Regions from separate parts of the Homo sapiens genome. Here all the other regions are reported to be linked to region 1. Evidence: microRNA targets listed by miRTarBase, many of them from high-throughput screens and not tested one by one. Region 1 holds a microRNA gene; each other region holds the end of a gene's coding sequence.

Region 1 (7,194 bases):
AAGCAACCTGAGTTCAAAATCAAGGCTGCCTAGAGGCCAGCCCTGCCACACCCCTTGAATATGTCTCCTCCTGGAAATGCTCTACTTACACTTTTCATATGACCACCACAGCTTTTAAGCAATATTAGGAAGCATAAAAGAATACAGCTCAATCACAGATGCCTTAAGTAAGTCACATGATCTGACCGAACGACGGCCTAAGATATTAGACTACAGTCTCAATTCTAAACAAAAGAGCCATGACATCTGCATCCCATAGGTGATTTGGATAATCAAATATGATCACTGCGGCCCTTTGGAAGTGAATAAAATGGCCTAACAAAGCACTCTATGCCATCAAAAAGGAACTTTTCCAATTGAAGGCCATCCCAGTATCATTCTAGTGCTTTCAGAACATGCAAGACCAATGTTTAAACACTAAAATGAACCTCCTCAAATCATTATTCATCATCATAATCCCCACTGAAATAATTTGGTAATGGAACTTTTGACAGAAGTGGCATGGTCTCTCCAGTGGCAGGAAAACAAGCCAAGCCATACTTTTCTGATACCTGACTTCCCATACTCACCATACTATCTACACCAGGGAGGCCTACTCAACCAGCAGATTAAAGTTCCGTTCTACTCAGGGAACAGCTGAGCTGTGGGCTGCTGATACTGTCAGCAGAGGGCTCTAGTCCTTACTATCAAGCATCAGGATTAGGCTGGGTCTCAACTCCAGGTCAAGGACACTAAAGTCAAAATCCAAATAATCAAGGAGAGGCAGGATTGCAGGAATCAAAATCAGGTTAACAGGCCAGAATCAGCAAGACTCACATCAATGAAACAGTAGAGGTGAAAGGGTAGAGCTGAGGTTCAAAAGAACAAGACAAGTTAGGCAGATCTCCAACAGAAAGAAAATACTTGAAACTCTTGCATACCAGGTCACATTGCTAACTCAGTCCGGCCTATGCACCTACCCTCAAACAACAGATCTGTTTTTCCTGATTAACCCAGATAATTTCTCAAGCAGAAGACTGAAAAGTCATCATAATGATCCACAATGACAAATTTAACATGACACATTCTTATTCCCACCTACCTGCTCAATATTATTCAGTTCTTCAATGAGATGACAGCTTTATTACAGTATTAACCCTTCACACAACAATTCAGATTCCACTGCCTGCCATCATCTTTAGTGACAGGTACTTCAGTCCTTATACTCCCTCTCATTTTCATTCTTACTTTTTCACGTTTCTTTGGTTTTTCGCACATATTCTACAAACATGAAAAGGGCATGCATACCTTCAAGAAGTCAATCTGGACATGAGTCTGCTAGAAAACAACAGGGAAGCTGGTACTCTAGGCATGCAGGATTTTTTACACTGCAGGCAGAGTCAGGTGGAGAATATACTGTCAGGCATCAGAGGCTTACAGTCATTCTTCCCTCTGTCAGCCATCTGAGCTTGTAAGCCCATGGTCTAAGCTGTGACATTTCATTTACTCTCTTTTCTCCTGTGTCCCTAGATTTTCTGTGGCATCCTGATTCTGACTGATGATGCTAGGTGTTTCTCCCAGATCTGAATTACCCTAGCTCAGAAACCTAATCCTAACTGCCTCTTCAAACATTTGGTCTGAACTCTGGGCTTTACCCCGCTACATTTAACCAGAGAGCTGGTTAACATATAGATGAGGTACTCCTCATCTATATGTTAATTGATGTGTTGTATTGCCATCCTCTCCCATTTCCACCTGCCAGAGAGCTGAGCAGGCACCTACTTTATGTAGAGGACAGTGACTGTTCATGTCTAATGTTTTCATTCAGTGGTTACCCCACCACCGTGCAAAACAGGACACTAAATAAATGTTATTTGTAAAGGATACTGATCACAGTTAGAAGTAAATCCCTGGTAAGAGTTGAAGGTTGTTCTCCCTGAGCTTTAAGAAACCCCAGAGGCAACACTGGCTTTGCCCTAGGCAGCCCTAAGACTAGTCATTCAGGCACAAGTATACAAATTACTCCCACTCACAGGAGAGCAAGACCCTTTTCCCAAGCACGTGCAATTAAAACTAAAGGGTAAACCATGTTCACATCTTAGGTCCTAATGCAGAAACTCACCGATAGCTTGGGAGACTGTCCTCAAACCAAACATCAAAAAATTGTTTTAAGTATAACTCTTACAATGTTACCTCACTAAATCTGATTATATCAAAACTGATTTTTAGATTAAGTCTTTGGGGTAATTAACTCTGGTTACTAAGAAGTCACCTTTTTCAAATATTTCTTATATATGGCAAAATAAATTTGGGGAAGGAATTCCTCAGAACTAAAAATGAGGAATAATACAAAGAAAAAAATCAAGCTAATATCACAGTTCACTTTTCTACAGATATTGCAAGTAAATCTTAAGGATCATTTCCAGCTTAACATCTAATAATGCAATCCTTCTTTATTCTCAAAGTGTGTATTAAGATGTTAGCACAGAGTTACTTCAAGCGTGTTTCTCATTTCACCAACAGCAATGGAAAGCTCTCAGCTGTGTGAACCACCGTCTCATGGTTCCTTTAAAACCGTAAAGTCTCAAATCAAACACCTCCTTAATCATACATTGATTCTGTATATTTGTGCCTGTCAATCCAGTCAATGTACCTAAATGAGGAATGAATGAACTCTCTCAAGTGTGATGAAAGACTATTCTTCTTTGAAGAAACCAATAATAAATGCATTCTTTAATTCAGAGATGGCATACATCTGTCATCAATTGGTATCAAATTTTAATGCATATTAATGCAAAAACACTTATTCTTCCAGTATTAATGAAGTCATGGAATCCAAAGGTACTCCTCAACTATATGTTAATTGATGTGTTGTACTGCCATCCTCTCCCATCCCCAACTGCTATGCTTGTTCAAGAATTCGAGATGGTAAACGAAGCTAGGTAGTACCATGTGGTGGGTATACATGTGACAGCAACCAGTTTGTAGGTCTCATGACTGCCTTGAAAGTTCTTCAAGTACAGCTGGGATTTTTAATAGCATCCCAACTGGAACTGTCACAGTAGCCAGTAGCCACTGATAATGTAACATTACAAATGATGGACAACAATTTCCTATTTTCATTCTTGAATTCCTACAAAACTTGAGTAAGCATTATACAACCCAAAATATTATCAAATTAATCAGTGAGAAAAACTTTTAAGTGTCAAAAGGAAGTACCCTCTTTACCTTTATGACCTTTTTAACAATGGCTAAAATCAATCCATATTACTAAAATGTTTAATAATGTTCATCAACAAAGTTGAAGCACACATAACACAAACTGTAAAAAGCAGGAAATAATTTTTTAAAATTACTTTCCCTAGTACCTGAAAGAAAAGTTTACAACTTTAACTATATAGGAAACCTTTCCCTTAAGATCCAGCCAACTAAAACTGGATGTCACACACAGGTAGCACAAAGGGACAACACAACATTCATCCAGGAGTCTAAATAAAATGACTCTTTCCACTTACACTGCAGTGGCACAAAATAGGAATACAGAAATCATTTCACATTCCAATAAAACATTTTATTTTAACACATAATGCAGAGTTCTTCACCTGTGCATCTTTAGAGGTCTACGGTTTGTATACAAAATGTTGTGTATATACACCTGCCTATGAAAAGTCTATAGTTCTCACCACATTTTAAAAATACAGCCAAAAACAATGTTAGGAACCCATAGAGAGAATCATAAAAATTTTCCCTACCACTAATTTAACATTACTTTCATATGACCCAGCAAAAAGAAATGCTCAACAGTGAAGGATACTAAAATAGTTACAGTAAGGTTTGGCTCACAACAGACTTCTACACAGAAAGCATTTTATTTTAATTTAAATTCATTCTCAAATGTCAAGAAAAAACTAAGGACTCTTATCAACCACTCTGACAAACTCTCAAAATAGGACACTAATAGGAAGATGATTAGCTTGGACTATATGCAAATCCATTCTGAATTCTTGTAAACTGAAACATTTTTGTTCCCATAGGAATTTTAAGCTCAGAGAGGGTATGGCCACAGCTAGCTTTTTTTCCTTTGTTTTTGCAAGTTGTTCCCCCTGTTGCTGATTTTCCTGAAATATCTTACATACAGCAAAGATTTGTTAAACATCTAAACAAACAAATGAATAAATTACAATTACATGAAACTAGGAGTCAGATGGAAACCACCAGTTCTTTACAGGTACCAGCATAAGCTTGCCAGGTATTGTCTATGGATCAAATCTCTGTTTCTGGCCATTTTTTTTTTTTAATGAACATATTAAGTGGCACGACACAATAAGGACAAAATGTGACAACATTATCACAAGGTATGCATTTCAGTACAACTTTAAAACCAGGGAACAGGGCAGTACTGAGTAGAGATGAAATAAACAAACAGAAGCCGAGCCGGTCAGGACCGAGTAAGGTTGAGGTTAGTGGCAACAGCATGTGCGTGGTTTCCAGGAAACCTTCAGTAAGACTGCTGTTAGCCCTAGCCCCGCACCTTGCCCAACCCAGTGTGCTGCGTCTTCTTCCAGCTCCCGCCTGGCTCAGTGCAGCACTGCCCTGCTCCCAGGGGTGCAGCCGCCCAGCCTGAACTCACCTTGGCAGTAGAAGGGCCTGAAGTTTAAAACATGTTAATGCATCATGCCAAAAATGCAATCAACATGCACACTTCATACACTCATGTTTCCAAAGAGATAGAAAATGTGCCACCAATAAGAAACCTCTACACAGAACACCCTCAAAGGAGTTGGAGAAACAATTTTTTAAACACCCACATTTACCACAAAAGTAGGAACACAACAACAGTGGTATTACTGCACCATGAAATTTCACCTAATGGATTAAAGTACCAAAAATAATCATGGCATCACCTACTTTAACTGCCATTATTTGCCCACTTGGTTTGTGGACCATTTTGTTGACAGAACCATAAGCTCCTCGTCCAATTTCTCCAAGGTCTTTCAAGTCCTCTGCAGTGAAATCCCAGTGTTGTTCAGGGGAGATCTTCAGTTTTCCTGATGACTCAATGCTGTGTGTTCTCAGTCTCTCTCTGTTAAAATATTGGGAAGCAATTTTTCCACATTTTAAATAGGTTTTAACTTTTTTCTTTTAGTACTGATTAATGTGTGGGAAAAATGTTTTCTAAATTACTAAAATAGTCTGACCTCCAGGTTTTTGAAGTTTTTCATTTGTGTCATCCTGGTTTTTTACACACTGGATTAAGAATGATCTAGATTTAGGTAGTCAATAGACACAGCTTCAACGGGATTCATAAAAACAAATTGCCAAGAAGATTTTTAAAAATTCCCATTTATTGATTAAACTAATTCTGCAGATCAGTTTTCATTTCTAAATATAAGATCTTATTCAAACTTGGATGATGGTTTATCCAAACAGCATTATCAAGTGAGAATCCCAAGAGCTGCAAACCTTATTGCGAAAAAGTTCTTACCCTATCTTACCCAACATTAGTTATTCCAGTGCCTCAATCTTCAGTTAGTACAACTATTCCCAAGGTTTGCTGTACCTTACAATCACCTGGGGGAGATTTTAAAAATCTCAATGCCCAGGTATCGTCCCATAGCAATTACATCTGAATTATCCAGGGACAGGAGTCAGAAAACAGTATTTTTAAAGACCCCCAGATGATTCCAGTAATGTTTGGGAACTAGTGCCTTAGTATACTGTCCTGTTCTTGTTAATACCATCCTGAGGTGGGAGAACAGTTAACTGAATAGCTAGCTGGCTCTAAGAGGAAAATTGCCATGTGCTATTCAAAATTGAAATTTTCAGCCCTCGTTCGATAAAGCAATGGGATAAAAAATGAGTGGCTCGTAGACAAAAGAGCTCACTCATTACATATTTCCATTAAATAAAAAATCATCTCCAAAATCTCAACCTGGAGATCAAAGTATTAATAACTTCTAACCATGCTTTGTAAAAAAGTAAATCCAATGAAAAATGTAAAATCAATCTGTTTCTCTCTCTTGCTCTCTCTCACACACACACCAAACCCCAATGTGTAGGAACAAACTATCAACCATACACACAATGAAAGAATTCATTAAATATCAACTACATTTTTCAGTTTCATACTAAATGATCAGGATCTCTTTTAAACTCTGATCCTATGATGCAAACAAGCAAAGTTTATGTGCTTGGTCATTATTTTTCTTCTTCCAAAATTTAGGAAAGTTTTCTCCAATTAGTAGAATGGTTTTCTGTAGCAACCTTTAAGGTTCCCAAAAAACTTAGAACTTTAAAATCTACCCCCACTCTGAGAATAATCGTATGTACTAATATTAAGGTTCAAAGTTACACTTCAAAGATTCATACACTTGGTCTAAATAACAATTTACTAAATCAGTGTTCCAAATAACAGACTTTCAAATCATACTAAGTGATAAGCTTTCATTCATACAAGTGCTTTTCAGTTCAAAGTCCTTTCACCCATATTATTTGATACTCTAGCATCCAGAATCACAAGAAGCCCGGAAATCAGTGGCATAAGTGACCATTTAGGTGAAGATGAAGCTGGAACTGATCTTTTAAGATGGAAATCAGGTCTAGGCAAAAATAGGAAACTCTTCTTGGTAATCTTTTTCATGAAGTAGACAGATTAAGCCTGAAAAAAGTTCTAACATGAAGAAGTTCCATGTATAATGATTATTGTTCTATAATCTTTGGCAAGTAAATACTATCTCAATGGCAAAATCACTGGTGAAATATACAGCACCAATCTACCACTGAGGGAAGCTGAAAAAAAGTTAATTAAAATTACTTGTAAATCAGAAGCAAAATTTTTTACAGTGTTCGCTAATTGAAGGGCTGTGGCAGACAGGCTCCAGGAAGTCCTCATGATCCCCACCTTCTTAGTGTTCGTATTTTTGTGTAGGCATATTTCTTTGGGTGTGAGTGGGACCTGTGACTTACCTCTAACCAAGAGAATATGGTAAAGATGATATAATATGACTCTCATGACTACATTGCTATATAATACTTATGCTAGCATTCTTGAGAACTGAAATGAAAGATATTTCATTACTATATAGAAATTACAGAATGAAAACAGTTACAATATTATGTCTTATTTTAAAGATCAAATTTTAGTATTATGGAATATCTCTACTAATAGTTTAGCTCACTGTAGTTTCTTTTTAAAACTGAATAAGTTGAAAGCGA
Region 2 (7,174 bases), not on the chromosome of region 1:
ATGGCAGGGGGGAGGGTGGTTCCCAAAGGAGATACCATCCCTGGTAAGGGGACATGGGCCCCTGGGAGTTGGGTTGGGCCACAAGGAGAGAGGCCTGAACGGCCAAAGGGAGGGGGCGTGGGGGAAGCCGCAGCATCAGACCTCTGCCTCCTCCCTCAGATCGTGAGGCTCCCCAGCCTGGCTCGGGAGACCCCGAGATCCCCGGCCGGTGACAGCAGGCGACCCCCTGCTCCTGTCAACCTGTGGGTCCCTACGGACGTGGGGAAGGGAGGAGGGAGGCCCCAGCTCCCTGCGGGGGAGGGGCGTGAAGACGCGCGGGGGTGGGGGGAGATGAGCCGGCGTCGCCATGACAACGAGGCCGGTGGTCCGGCCTTGGGGACCCGGGAGGGAGGGAGGCGCCGTGGCCGCGCGCGCGGGCGGGGGCGGGGGGCCAGGTCTCCCAGGAGTAGTTGGGGAACACCCGGCGATTCTGGCGGCTGCTTCCTGGTGGCGCAGGGAGCCCGCGTGTTTGCGAGTGCGTGTGTGTGCGAAGTTCTCCGGGTAAGTGTGCCAGCGCGCGCCTGGGTGTGTGCAAGGGTGTGAGCGTGCACACGTGGGCACGGGCGTGTGCGCGCGGGGGTGCCCGGTTGGATGTGTGCACACGAGTGTGTGCCGGTCCGCGTGCCCCTGCGTGAGTGTGCGCGCGCGAGCACACGTGTGTGTGCGCGCTCGCGTGCGCTCCCGAGCGGGCCCCGGGTGGGAGTCCGAGATCCCGCCCCCTCCCCAGCCCCAGCGCCCCTCCCCGTCCCCCGCCGCCGCGCCGGCTGCATCCTCGCCTCCACCTCGCTCACCCCCTCCTCCCCGCACTTTCTCGGCGCTCCCTCCCTCTCGGCTCGCACAGCTCGACTCCGCGCTCTCCTCGCCGGCCGCCGCCGCCCAGCCTGCGCCCGCCGTCCCCCCAGTGCCTGGGCACCTGTTGGAGGCAGAGGCAGGTGCAGGGGGCTGGGCAGGCCGGGGGCGTGAGGGTGCGGGGAAGCGTGCCAGCCTGTGTGCGCTACGGGGGTGTTCGGCTCTCCTGCGGCTGCAATTTCTGGCTCCCCTGAGGAGCCAGAGGTGGCATCTGAGGCTGGGGTCTCCACCGTGGGCTGTGGTGAGCGAGCGGGGGAACCAGGCAGGCAGACAGGTCCTGGGGCTGAATGAGGGGACAGTGGGCAGTTGGAGCCTAGAGGGGTGGGTGACACCCTGACTAGACCAGCGCCTGGTGCAGAGGAGGACAGAGCCTCCGAGAAACAGAGGCGGGGCCCTGCAGGGCCCCTTGGGGGACAGGCAGGCTCAGGAGCAGAGGGGAGCCCCGGAGGAGAGGAAGGAGCTGGCAAGATGATACAGGGACAACCTAGAAGTGGGTGGGTGAGGACGGGGTGGTGCAACCTCGACTTCTGCAAGGAGTGGGTTGGCAGCCCAGCCCCTGTGGAGTCAGCTTGGGGTCTGCAGGGCCCAGGCCTCCCACCTGCCACCGGCTGGCACACACCACCCTCTCCCTCGACACCTAGGAAGGGAGGCCAGTGAGGGCCCCACAGACCGAGGAGGCCGTCGCCTGGCCCTCAGCCAGGATGGCTAGGTATGATGGGCTCACTGGCTCACACGCCCTCTCCTAGCCAGGGGTGCTGCATGAGGGGCCGCAGGGGCGATCGCATGACCATCAACATCCAGGAGCACATGGCCATCAACGTGTGCCCCGGGCCCATCCGGCCCATCCGCCAGATCTCTGACTACTTCCCCCGGGGACCAGGACCTGAAGGGGGCGGCGGGGGCGGCGGGGAGGCCCCCGCCCATCTGGTCCCCCTGGCTCTGGCCCCCCCTGCAGCCCTCCTTGGGGCCACCACGCCTGAGGATGGTGCGGAGGTGGACAGCTATGACTCGGATGATGCCAGTGAGTCTGGGGGCTTGGAGGCCCCATGTGCTGGTGGGGGTCTCCAGGCTTGCCGTGGTGGGGGGAGAGGGGGATGGGCCCTGCTGGCTGTGCATGTAGGTAGGGGAGGAGGGCAGTGGGGGGGTGGCAGGGACGGCCACCACAGCTGCAGTCAGCGTGGAGATTACAGCTTCAGCAAGGCTCAATATTCAGTATTTCTGCTGAGACACTCCACCACCCACACAGCCCCAGTTGCGGCCGAGCCAGGGACCCAGACGCACACACGCATGGGCCCACTCAGCCTCTTGCACTCACACTCGCGGGCTGGCAAGAGAGAGAGACACACAGAGCCAGTGCCCACCTGCTGGCCTCTCGCACACACCTGTCTCCATACCGACCCATGCTGCCTTTCCTCTCTCTCCAGCCGCCCTAGGCACGCTGGAGTTTGACCTTCTCTACGACCGGGCCTCCTGCACTCTGCACTGTAGCATCCTCAGGGCCAAGGTGGGCACTCCCTGCCACCCAAGCCCGGGCCCGGTTTGCGTGCAGCCCCCAGAGGGGGCCCATTCCTCCTTCCCTTCCCAGGCCTGCTCCTTCGTCCTGCCCTTGCCCCCTCCTTCTGGGCTCCTCCAGGGTCCAGCTCTACAAGAGGGATGGAGAGAGGTGCCGGGAGCCTCTAGCCCTCTCCCCTGCCCTCCTCTCCAGGGCCTCAAGCCCATGGATTTCAATGGCCTCGCCGACCCCTACGTCAAGCTGCACTTGCTGCCTGGAGCCTGTAAGGTAACAGCCTCCTCTCGCCCCGCCCGGCCCAGCCCATGACTCCAGCCTGTGGGGCTGGAGGACAGGTATTGAGAACCTTTCATCCCCACATCCCAGGCCAATAAGCTAAAAACGAAGACTCAGAGGAACACACTGAATCCCGTGTGGAATGAGGACCTGACTTACAGCGGGATCACAGATGACGACATCACGCACAAGGTGCTCAGGTGAGGGCCCCCCTCCCCACCACCCAGCAGCAGCTCGGGGACAGCTGACATTGTAACCGCTGGTTGGTTGATCTATGTCCCATTAAGCCCGTACCTCTCTGATGCTCAAGAACCATCAGCGGCTCCCTAGCCCCTTTGGCAGCAGGCCAAAATTCTTCCCTGCCATTCCTGCCCCTCAATATCTCCTGCCTGCCAGGTGTGGTGGCTCACACCTGTAATCCCAGCACTTTGGGAGGCCGAGGTGGGCGGATCACTTGAGGTCAGGAGTTCAAGACCAGCCTGGCCAACTTGGTGAAACCCCCGTCTCTACTAAAAATACAAAAATTAGCCGGGCGTGGTGGCATGTACCTGTAAATCCCAGCTACTCGAGAGGCTGAGGCAGGAGGATCACTTGAACCCGGGAGGCAGAGGTTGCAGTGAGCCGAGATCGCACCACTGCACTCCAGCCTGGGTGATGGAGACTCCATCTCAAAAACAAAACAAAAGTATCTTCTGCCCCTCAAACAGAGGACTCCCTTCTTCCAACTGGCCAGTTCCACAACTCCTGAACTTTTCCTGTTGTTTTCTATCTGGAAAGCTCCTTCCTGCCAGCCTAAATTCCGCTCATCTGAGGTTCAGTCCAAGCTCTGCCCCCTCCCAAAAACGTTCCTGGGTTGCCGAGACCCCTTCTCAGAGCCCTTGGCTTAAGCCAGACCTCTGCAGCTTTGGTCTGCCCCTTCCGTGCCTTGAGTTCCCCTAAAATCTCTTAAGGAGTGAAGTCTTCAGGGACAGGGAACTTGCTCCGTCATCCTAGGAGATGGAGATGTAGGGAGAGTACTCCCTCAAGTCAGGTGGCGGGCAGCGAAACCCAGGCTCTGGAGAGACCTCTGCCTTTGTGCTTGGATTTGCAGCTGGGACCTTCCCTGATGGTCAGGGCTGTGCAGCAGAGAGGCCACCTTGGTTTCAGCTATTCGGGTGGAATGGAGGGGAGGCCAGAGGCCAAAACCAGAATGAGACCAAAAAATGAGCGCTCACCAGGGCCCAGCCCAGGCTTAGCATTTTCACATTTCTTTCTTTCCCTTGACTATCTCCATTTACAGATGGGAATTGAGGCATAGGGTGATCAAGTGACTTGCCCAAGGTCACACAGGTGGCTCAGAAGTGGCAGGGCTGGGATCTGCCCATCCTCCATGCCACAGATGCCCAGCCTGGTAGTGGGTCACTGCGGAGGCAGGGCAGGGACTGCAGGAGGACAGGTGGCTGGAAAGCAATCATTTCTTAGTGAGTCCCTGCGGGGCTGGCTCTCTGCTGCATGCAGGAAAAGGACGGGGGTTCCCGAGGAGGCGTGGGGTACTGGTCTGGCTGCCCAAGGCTCCAAGGCCCTTCTAGCTCTCACGGCCTGTGTCTATGGCCACATCCACCGTGGTGTTCGGCTCCTGCCCCCAGGCCCTGAATGGAGGCAGTGAGCAGCGTGCTCCAAGATTTCTGAGGGCTTCCCACAATGGCTGAGCATGTCCTGATGGACCAGGGACAGCCGGGTGGCTGCAGAGGGAGGGACAGAGGAATGGGCAAATCTGCTTGTCCTTCTCAAGTGCCAGCCTGTCTTCCAGATGAGACGTAGTGTTTAGGGCAGAGCTGGGCTGGTCCAAGGCCCTTCCTACACCCCGGAACGGGGCTCAGGTACCCCAGGGGCCCTGACACTGCAGTTCCCGACCAGGATCGCCGTCTGTGATGAGGACAAGCTGAGTCACAATGAGTTTATTGGGGAGATCCGCGTGCCCCTCCGCCGCCTCAAGCCTTCGCAGAAGAAGCATTTTAACATCTGCCTCGAGCGCCAGGTCCCGGTCTGTGTGGGGGCTGCAGGGGCGCCAGGGGAGGGGGCCCTGGGGAGGCCAGGCTTCCAGAACCTTCTCTTTGCCCCCTCAGCTGGCGTCCCCCTCTTCCATGTCAGCGGCGCTGAGGGGCATCTCCTGTTATCTGAAGGAGGTGAGGCACCTCATGGGGATGGGGATGCATGTGGGTGGGAGGCTGCAGGGGCCCAGGCTGACCCTGAGTCTGTGCCCCGCAGTTGGAGCAGGCGGAGCAGGGGCAGGGGCTGCTGGAGGAGCGTGGCCGCATCCTGCTGAGTCTCAGCTACAGCTCGCGGCGCCGGGGACTGCTGGTAGGCATCTTGCGCTGCGCCCATCTGGCTGCCATGGACGTCAACGGTTACTCGGACCCCTACGTCAAGACGTGAGCCCTTGCTCTGACCCTCTCCTCCCCAGGGAGCCTGCCCTGGCCTGAGTTGGGCCTGGCCTGTCCCTCACCCCTCAGTTCGTCTCCCTCCACCCCACCCCCAGGTACCTGAGGCCCGATGTGGACAAGAAATCCAAGCATAAGACGTGTGTGAAGAAGAAGACTCTCAACCCAGAATTTAACGAGGTACCCAGGAGGGGACGGGACATGGAGGGAGGCCAGGGAGGGGCTGGGGAGCTGGCTCACGAACGGGTGGCCGGCCTTGTCCCTAGGAGTTTTTCTACGAGATAGAGCTCTCCACTCTGGCCACCAAGACCCTGGAAGTCACCGTCTGGGACTATGACATTGGCAAATCCAATGACTTCATTGGTGAGGGAGGAGCTGGCTGCGGGTGTTGAGGGCGGGCAAGTGGCAGGGAGGTGGCCCTGACCCTGCCCACCTGCTCCCCAGGTGGCGTGTCCCTGGGGCCAGGTGCCCGAGGCGAGGCTCGGAAGCACTGGAGTGACTGCCTGCAGCAGCCGGACGCAGCCCTGGAGCGCTGGCACACCCTGACCAGTGAGCTGCCCCCTGCGGCCGGGGCTCTGTCCTCAGCCTGAGTGGACAGCAGTGTCCCGGCACAGGCCCATCGAGCCGGGTCCAGTACCCAACCTTCGCACGAGTGTGTTGCACGTTTACACAGGGTGGGCTGCCCCCACCCTGCACTACCTATTTTTGTGAGTCTCCGTGACCCGGGTCTGTCTGCTCATGAGGGGCTGCGGAGTTCTATATTCACATATGCAAACCTCCTGCCTGACTCGCTAGTCCCTGCAAATATGCAAACCCCCCATCATCTGCACACCCGGGCAGTGCTCAGAGCCCGGCCCCAGGCCCCCGCGCTCCTCACTCCTGCCTCTCCACGCTGCCCCGTCCCTCTCCCCCAACAGGGAGGAGGTCGGATTAGGGGAGGTTCAGAGGAGGAGAATGTCTCAAAAAAAAAGGACAAAAAACAAACCCAGAGCCACTCCTTTAATACAGAAACTTCATTGAAAAAACCTAGCCCTGTACAGCTGCCCTTTTAAAGAGGTGGCCATTGCAGGGTCTCTGCCTCCCCAGCAGGTGGCAGATGCTCCCGGCCACTCGTTTAAATAACTGTCCCCTGGAGGGGGCCGGGGTTTGAAGGCAGGGCCCCTGCCACCCTCCTGGGGGACACCCGTGCATGTTTACGCCTTTTCTGGTTGTGTCAGTGGCCGGAGCATGGCAGCTGGGCATCAATAAACACCTCCGAGGAAGCTGGACTCGTGTGTGCTGGCACGGGGAGGGCGCCGGGCGGGGCCGTGGTGGGCATGGCGTGATGTCACGGTCACTCCGGGATGTCGATCACCAGGTCATCGTCTCCATCCAAGGCATCGTCCCCGCTACCTGCATCGCTGAACATCTGCCGAGGGACCGTGCTCAGGATCGTGGGGGGGGGCATCTTAGGGGGTGGGAGGGGGGTCAGGGTTGTCCCGACCCCAGCCCCAGAACCCCGGCCAGGGAAGGTCAGCGGCCCTCCCACAGGGCAGTCGGGGGGTCCCACCGCCATCTGCAGCAGGGGGAAGAAACACAGGGGGACTAGTCAGGGAGGCACTGGGGCCTCAGGAGACTAGGCTTTGCCCCCCAGGGCAGCTCTGGGGAGGGGGAAGAGGCCCTGGGCACAGCTGGGCCAACCCATGCTGCACTCAGGGCCTGCCCCCCTCAGCCCCTCGAGAGCCTCAAACCAGCAAGTGCCTGGGGGTGGTGATAGAGGTGAGATGAGGGGATGGGGGTGTCTCACAGGAAACCGGGAGGGAAAGGCCCGGGCACCTGCCCTCTCCAGGGAGGCGCCTGGGCTGCCCTGAGACAGGGGTTAAGCCAGAGGCGGAGTCGGCCTGGAGTGCTTGCCTGCCTGCCGGCCCCGGAGGTGCCACCTGCCACCAGCTTCCTCTCCCTACTCCTCCTCTCCCTCTTCTGCGGCACTCACTGGTTCGGTGGAGGGTATTGCAGGCTGCCTGAGCCAGGAGCCCCAGCGGCTTATCTGCCCCCAAGAAGCTTGTATTATGTCTTGGATGGGCCCCTCCTCGGGGTCCCG
Region 3 (7,194 bases), not on the chromosome of region 1:
ACCTCATTCTGGTTCTACCCAGAGGATGTGGTTTTGGCACCGTCCGGTCAACACCAACCAGCCAGAACACACTGGCCTTTTCTGTTCCGATGTGGTTCCTGGTCCTTGAATTAATTGTCTTTGTACTTGGAGGGAAAAATCTCATTTCGCACTGGAAACACTGTCTCAGAAATGGGCTGAAGTTGGCTTATCTTGGCCCTAATGTGTTCTCTTCTCTTCCTGTCTCCATTGCCCCTGCCCCCCTGCTGTCCCCATCACAGGCCTGCGTGGTATGACCTTCCTCCACCGCCCTACTCTTCTGACACGGAATCTCTGAACCAAGCCGACCTGCCCCCCTACCGCTCCCGGTCCGGGAGTGCCAACAGTGCCAGCTCCCAGGCAGCCAGCAGCCTCCTGAGCGTGGAAGACACCAGCCACAGCCCGGGGCAGCCTGGCCCCCAGGAGGGCACTGCTGAGCCCAGGGACTCTGAGCCCAGCCAGGGCACTGAAGAAGTATAAGTCCCAGTTATTCCAAAGTCCATATGGGTTAATCTGCTCTGACTTGTTGCCATTCTAACAATTTGTGCTCATGGGAAGCTCTTTAAGCACCTGTAAGGGTGTCTCAAGTTACAGTTTGGGATATTAACTATCTCTGCATTCCCCTCCTCCCCCAGACTTCAGAGATGTTTTTCTGGCGTCTCAGTTGACATGATCTGTTGTGCGTCTTTTCTGTCAGGTCACTCTTCCCTTGGGACCCGAGATCACACCCTCATTTTTCACATTATTCTGTTTCTGTTGGAGAGACAGCATATAAAACAGTATTGAAATAGGCTGGGAGAGAGCAATGTTTCTGTGCTATATTGGATGCTCAGAAGTGCAGGAGACGCTGGACCCAATTCTCTCTGCTGGGTAGTTACCTTATAGCATTTGGGGATTTGGGTTAGATGATCTAACCAGGAGGCCATCACTGGATGGTCACCCCCCCAAAAAAATTCCATTTGAGCATCAAAACCTGCTTTGCACAATCCTATTTGATGCCCCCAGTTCAGCAGAGTCAGTGGCCAAAGAAAACTTTGGACGTGAGTAACACCCTTCAGCAGTCGCAACGTTATTTTGGTTTTGTGAAGGACTCTGAAACCATCTACCCTGTATAAATTCTGGCTTTAGAAATTTGCCCAAGAATGCTCATTCTGAGAGCTTTCCTCAGCAGCATATATCATCAGCCTCATCCTAAAATAGGCAGGGAGCCCCTCCCATGAGTTTATCCAAGTTCTCAGCTCCTAAAATGCAGGCTGCCAAGACCCTACACCTGCCCTGGCTCTACAGCCACTTACCTGGTTTCTGGACTGTCACCCTCCCAGCTGACCTGCCCGTAGCCAAGGAATGAGGACCTAACTTGAGTTGGCCCAAAGTCTGACCTGGCTGTATGTCCCTGTGGCCCACACCCAGCCTGTCTTGCTCATTCATGCAGCCTCAACACTGGCCTCCAAAGTTCCCTTAACACTTGCAAAGTCCTTTTTACCTGTGCATTTGGACTTGAGGACACTGGTTTCTATCACAGGTGAGAGCCATGTTCAATACCTCCAGCAAGCTCTCCTGGCTCCCTGCACTGTGCACGCTCCTCTTCCCAAGGTCCCAATACCAGCACCTCTAGTTAGAGTTAGGGTCAGGGTCAGGCCTCTCCCAACATCCCAGTAGTTTCTCCTCTGAGACACATGGGCAAGAGACAATTTGGAGTCAAGATTTTCCATTTGGATCTATTTTAAATCTTTTAGAAATGCATTTGAAACAGTGTGTTTGTTTTTTCCCTTCTAGTTAAGGGACTATTTATATGTGTATAGGAAAGCTGTCTCTTTTTTTGTTTTTCCTTTAACAAGGTCCAAAGAAAGATGCAAAAGGAGATCACACCCTTGCCCCGCTGAGCCCCGTGATAACAAGTCACTCCAGACTAACCTGTGTGCCAGACATTTGTGCATTGTTGCACTTTGAGGTTATTATTTATCAAGTTCTTGAAGGAAGCAGAAAGAGGGACTCCTCTCTCCCTCCGTGTATAGTCTCTATGTTTGTGCTAGTTTTTCTTTTTTTTCTCTGTGTCCAGTCAGCCACAGGGCCCGCCTCCCTGCAGGAATAAGGGGTAAAACGTTAGGTGTTGTTTGGCAAGAAACCACACTGACTGATGAGGGGTAAAATGGAACCAGGTAGAGCCACTCCGGGCAGCTGTCACCCATTCAGAACTTCTTTCCGCAGCTGAAGAAATGTTCAGTAACCTGTTTGACGCTAATTAAAACAGAGCCTGCAGGAAGTGGGGCTAAAGTGGCATTCAGTGATCCTGTTCTGTAGACTTTTCTTTCTTTTTTTAACCAAATCCAAAGGATGTTACAGAAAAGCTAGCCACTGGTATTTTGTTTTGTTTAAAAAAAAAAAGAAAGAAAGAAAGAAAGAAAAACGGAAAGGAACCTAGCTGCCTGTATCTTTCATTTTTAAAATAGCACTTGAGTTATTTTCTGAGTAATCCAATAAAGAACTTTTGATGACAGCCAGAATGTGTTAGAACTCTGGCTGAACATTTCATCTCCTGTGAGTCAGAAGGGCTTTATTTCTCCCTTTGATGGGGCCCCTTCTTCTTTCTGGTGCTCTGGAAGTTGTTTAGAGGAAAGAATTCTAATTTTAATTAATTGCGCAGTGAGTTAATCTCACTCGCTTTTCTGCTTCCAGGCATCTTAGGAAAAACAAATGGTTTTAGTAGATAAGGGATGCCTACTAATGCTTTTTTAAAACAAACAGGGACATTTTTATTATAGATTTGATTTTTTTAATGAATGTTTTTAAAAATATATAAATAGGACACCAAAGCGGCAGGGTTTTTTTGGGGGGGAGGGGGTTTGTTTTCCAACTCAAGATGGCACATTAGTGGCCAGCAATATTTTTTAACTCATTCCAACCAGGAAGCTTTTTTATACATTGCCTAAATCTACGCCAACCAGAAAATAGTCTCATCTCTTTTTTTCTCAAATGAGATCCGTGTTTTATTTTAGCATTAAATTAGTTACACTGTGATGACTGGCCTATTACCTGACTCAGCTCCCTCTACCTTGAAATTGACATTTTTAAAAAATGCAACTAAGTGGTTAATAGTGTGTGACGCTCAAAGTTAATGTAAACTGGAAAGGTTGTGTGTCGTTGCTTTTTGTGTTTTGGTTAGGCTTGGTTTTGTTTTTTAATTTTTATACTTTCTAATAAATTTGCAGTTTCATTCTTTCTGTTTGTGCAAATGGTCCTTGACCCACTCATTTCCCTTATAGCAATATAAACAGTGGACAGTCACTTCTGTCATAGCTTTTGCAATGAATTTATGCCATAATAAAATGAGAAAAAGGAAGAATATGTTGGTGGGACCTCAAAATGTGATGGATGCTTCAGGATTCTGCAGCTGATATGATTGGAATACAGAGGCAAAGTTGTGGACACCAGTTAATGTAATGGGCCCTGGGAAATCATATTGGAAGATGGGTGTTTCTGCCTTTGCTACAGCATTGTTCAAGGGAAAAGGACAAGTAGCTGTGATAACTGTAACAGATTCTGACCACATATTCAGGAGCACACTATAGCTCTTGGATAGGTGGGCTAGTAATTAGTTTCAAAACACAAATGGCTCAGATTGTCCCCATCAATGATGGGAACATCTTTATGCTTTTTTAAGTCTAGTTTTGGAGCCACATGTTGGCCAATGCAGCAGGGACATCTGCCTGGGAAGGAAGTTAGGATGCCCCATAGGTCACCAGCACCACCATCATGAACAGGGACAGTAACTCCAGCCCTGGCCGAAATGAAATCCACATGGAAATCCAAATGCAAGACCCACAGTACCAAGATTTGGATCATGTATTGATCCCAGATTCCTCAAATGAAGACTGGGCTGTCAGGCATGTGTATCCCAAATATATGCTATGTCATGCCCTGCCCCAAGTGATGTAGAGTAGACTTTCCCAAGCCCCAAAGATTTGTCAAGTTACTCATTTCATCATCCCTCGAGGTACCTTATGAATACCTTTTTTTTTCTTTTTTTTGAGATGAAGTCTCGCTCTGTCGCCCAGGCTGGAGTGCAGTGGCGTGATCTCAGCTCACTGCAAGCTCCGCCTCCCGGGTTCACGCCATTCTTCTGCCTCAGCTTCCCGAGTAGCTGGGACTACAGGCACCCACCACCATGCCCGGCTAATTTTTTTTTTTTTTTTTTTTTTTTGCATTTTTAGTAGAGGCAGGATTTCACCGTGTTAGCCAGATGGTCTTGACCTCCTGACCTCGTGATCCGCCCACCTCGGCCTCCCAAAGTGCTGGGATTACAGGCGTGAGCTGCCACGCCCAGCCATGAATACCATTTTTATGGATGCCAAGATGAGCATTTTTTATGGATGCTAGTGCTTTGCAATGATTGTAAAATACTCAGCTAGAGCAGGGGTTGATAAACTTTCTCTAAAGGGCCAGAGAATAAATATTTTTGGCTTGTGGCCGTGTGGTTTCTGTAGCAACTGCAAAAGCAGCTATAGACAATACAAAATTGAATGGATGTGGCTGTGTTCCAAGAAAACTATTTACAAAAACAGGCTACTGGTGGGATTTGACCTGTGGGCTGTGGTTTGTCAGTAATCTAAAGGATCACTTCCACATTGGGTTCATAGATGTAAAGCTAAGGACACTGAAGAGAAGAAACAGTTGTGTTAATGGCTTGGAGTACTAGAACCCTTGAAATGACACCAATCTCAAAAAATTAAAAATAGGCCGGGTGTGGTGGCTCACGCCTGTAATCCCAGCACTTTGGGAGGCCAAGGTGGGCGGATCATGAGGCCAGGAGATTGAGACCTTCCTGGCTAACATGGTGAAACCCCATCTCTACTAAAAATACAAAAAAAAAGAAAAATTAGCCGGGCGTGGTGGTGGGCACCTGTAGTCCCAGCTACTTGGGAGGCTGAGGCAGGAGAATGGCATGAACCTGGGAGGCAGAGCTTGCAGTGAGCCAAGATCGAGCCACTGCACTCTAGCCTGGGTGACAGAGCGAGACTCCGTCTCAAAAAAGAAAAAAAATTAAAAATAGAAAAACTCATGAAGCAGACAATTCAAGGCCCCTATTAGTTCTCTTCCAAAATAAGAAGATACAGGATTAAGCTGAAGAGAGGCTTTCTTAATGAAATCCTAAATATTTGGGTTCAATATAGCAATCCTAGGAAAAAAAAAAAACAAAAAACTACTCTTACTGGGAGTTCTTCAAGGTCATGAACTCACACAGCAATCTGTCTTTTTTTTTTTTTTTTTGAGACAGAGTCTCACTCTGTTGCCCAGGCTGGAGTGCAGTGGCACAATCTCGGCTCACTGCAACCTCTGCCTCCCAGGTTCAAGTGATTCTCCTGCCTCAGCCTCCCAAGTAGCTGAGATAATAGGCGTGTACCACCACACCTAGCTAATTTTTTGTATTTTTAGTAGAGACGGGATTACACCGTGTTAGCCAGGACGGTCTCGATCTCCTGACCTCATGATCCACCCGCCTCAGCCTCCCAAAGTGCTGGGATTACAGGAATCTGTCTTTTAGAGAAGGTCCATGGGAGTGAGTGACGTGGTATGTCCATTTTCTACGTTGAGCTTGCAACCCACAGGCAAAGCAGTAGATTCTAAGAGTGAATTGAATGAGAAAGAGATTCAGGTGGCTGCAGTGGAAGTGTATGAGTGTACATAACTATGCACCCAGTGAGACCCTTAGGGAAAAGGTCAGTGAGAAAATATACTGACTCCCTTGACATCCTACAGCTAAACAAGTTCATAGGACATTAATTAGAACTCCTAGTTGTAAGTTATAGAAATCTGACTCATACATGATTAATTGCATTAAATTTTAGAAGATATATTGTCTAAAGCAACCAAGTCCAAGATTATGGAACTTTTGGGTTCAAGCAGACCTGGATCCAGCTGCTCAACAGCCTTCATTAGGAATTTGTTCCTCCCTTGCCAGTTTCTCAGCCCTGCTTGCTCATGGAAAAGAGAGTCCAGAAAACCCAGGTTCACAGTCTCAGGAGAGGCACTCTCTCCTAGCATCTATAGAAACCTTTAAACGGACTCACGATTGGTTGTTCTTGGTCATGTGACCACTACTATGAGTGGGTCTCAGTCCCTTGATTGACAGCCCCACCTGAATTACATGAAGTGGGAAAGAGAAAATTCCCATATGGAAAGAGTCTGGTAGTAGACCAAATACCAATATATCTGCTGTAAACCCCCACCAAAGAATGGGACTCACAACTGGCTGGTACAATTTGTAATATACATAAGAAAATAGCAGACAACTACAAGCTTCAGACAATGTAACCATGGGCATTATATGGTCTGAAAGAAACAGAGGCAACGTTGCAGTGAAAATTTCAGGAGACTCAACAGCCTTTCCTTAAACCTATGAGGCAAGGTTAGTTTCAAGTTGGGGTTGGATCATGTATACTTTTGTGAGACGGTCATGAATAAGCTGTGTAGGAGGAATTCTACCCTAAAGATACCCCAAATATCTCTTGGGCTCAGAACTGTCTCCCAACCACTGAAATGGGGCAATTATCCTGCCAAGAGTTTCCCCATCCTTCACAGTATTTTTAAGCTGATGGATCAGAAATATATTCCCATTCATCACCCTTATCAAGCTACCTAAAGACCTAGACTCAAGTATGCATGCAGTTAATGAGGCTTTCCATAGTTAACCATTTGTCTATACCTGAAAGTTAGGATGTGTCAATATCTAGAGAACCATCCACTAGAAATTTTGGAACAGCTTGTGTCACTGGAGCTGAGGGGCTGAGTTTCCATTATATTGAGAGCTTGAAGGTATAATCATGGGGAGCTGTGATGAAATATTGGAGGAAGCATGTTAATTTAAATATTACTGATGCCTCAGTTGGGCTGAGTTTATAGTCTGAGCAAGGATAATTCACTCTAAAGTTCTAATATCAGGCTGTATTTGACTTTACATGCTTTTCAAGGTCACCGTTGACGGTGAGTCATCCCAGTGAGCCAGCAGAGAAAAGGCATTCCAAGGAGCACACATGCATGGGCAGTGTTTACGGGCCAGACCTGGAAGCAACACACACCTTCACTCACATTTCATTGCACAGAGCCTGGTCAGTCCCATGGTCAGACCTACCTGTAAGAGAGGCTGAGAAGTTAGATTAGCTGTGTGTCCAGGAAGAA

The links. Region 1 holds the annotated microRNA hsa-miR-744-5p (UGCGGGGCUAGGGCUAACAGCA, at 4,488-4,509, opposite strand). A microRNA usually pairs through its seed, bases 2 to 8, with sites in the 3' UTR of a target mRNA and lowers its output. Matches are read on the target gene's strand: a 7mer-m8 pairs with bases 2 to 8, a 7mer-A1 pairs with bases 2 to 7 and ends in A, and an 8mer does both.
Region 2: the mRNA of INO80E is a reported target of hsa-miR-744-5p. Seed matches in the 3' UTR shown: 7mer-m8 at 6,394-6,400.
Region 3: the mRNA of LDLRAD3 is a reported target of hsa-miR-744-5p. Seed matches in the 3' UTR shown: 7mer-m8 at 1,892-1,898.

What each region holds. Positions count from the first base shown.
Region 1 is chr17:12,079,224-12,086,417 of GRCh38, reverse strand. MIR744 (microRNA 744) reads right to left here and starts at 4,519; the gene lies at 4,422-4,519. It overlaps MAP2K4 (mitogen-activated protein kinase kinase 4), which reads right to left. Exons shown (of 11, transcript NM_003010.4): 3 at 4,888-5,062.
Region 2 is chr16:30,004,696-30,011,869 of GRCh38, reverse strand. INO80E (INO80 complex subunit E) reads right to left here. Exons shown (of 7, transcript NM_173618.3): 7 at 6,079-6,649. The coding sequence ends at 6,428. It overlaps DOC2A (double C2 domain alpha), which reads left to right and starts at 843. Exons shown (of 11, transcript NM_003586.3): 1 at 843-967; 2 at 1,635-1,909; 3 at 2,313-2,392; 4 at 2,594-2,668; 5 at 2,765-2,874; 6 at 4,571-4,697; 7 at 4,780-4,839; 8 at 4,922-5,085; 9 at 5,193-5,274; 10 at 5,361-5,457; 11 at 5,539-6,356. The coding sequence starts at 1,648. The coding sequence ends at 5,684. RefSeq lists a silencer at 877-936.
Region 3 is chr11:36,228,900-36,236,093 of GRCh38, forward strand. It overlaps LDLRAD3 (low density lipoprotein receptor class A domain containing 3), which reads left to right. Exons shown (of 6, transcript NM_174902.4): 6 at 261-3,237. The coding sequence ends at 498. Among named protein-coding and RNA genes, the nearest start is that of COMMD9, 57 kb to the right of the region's middle.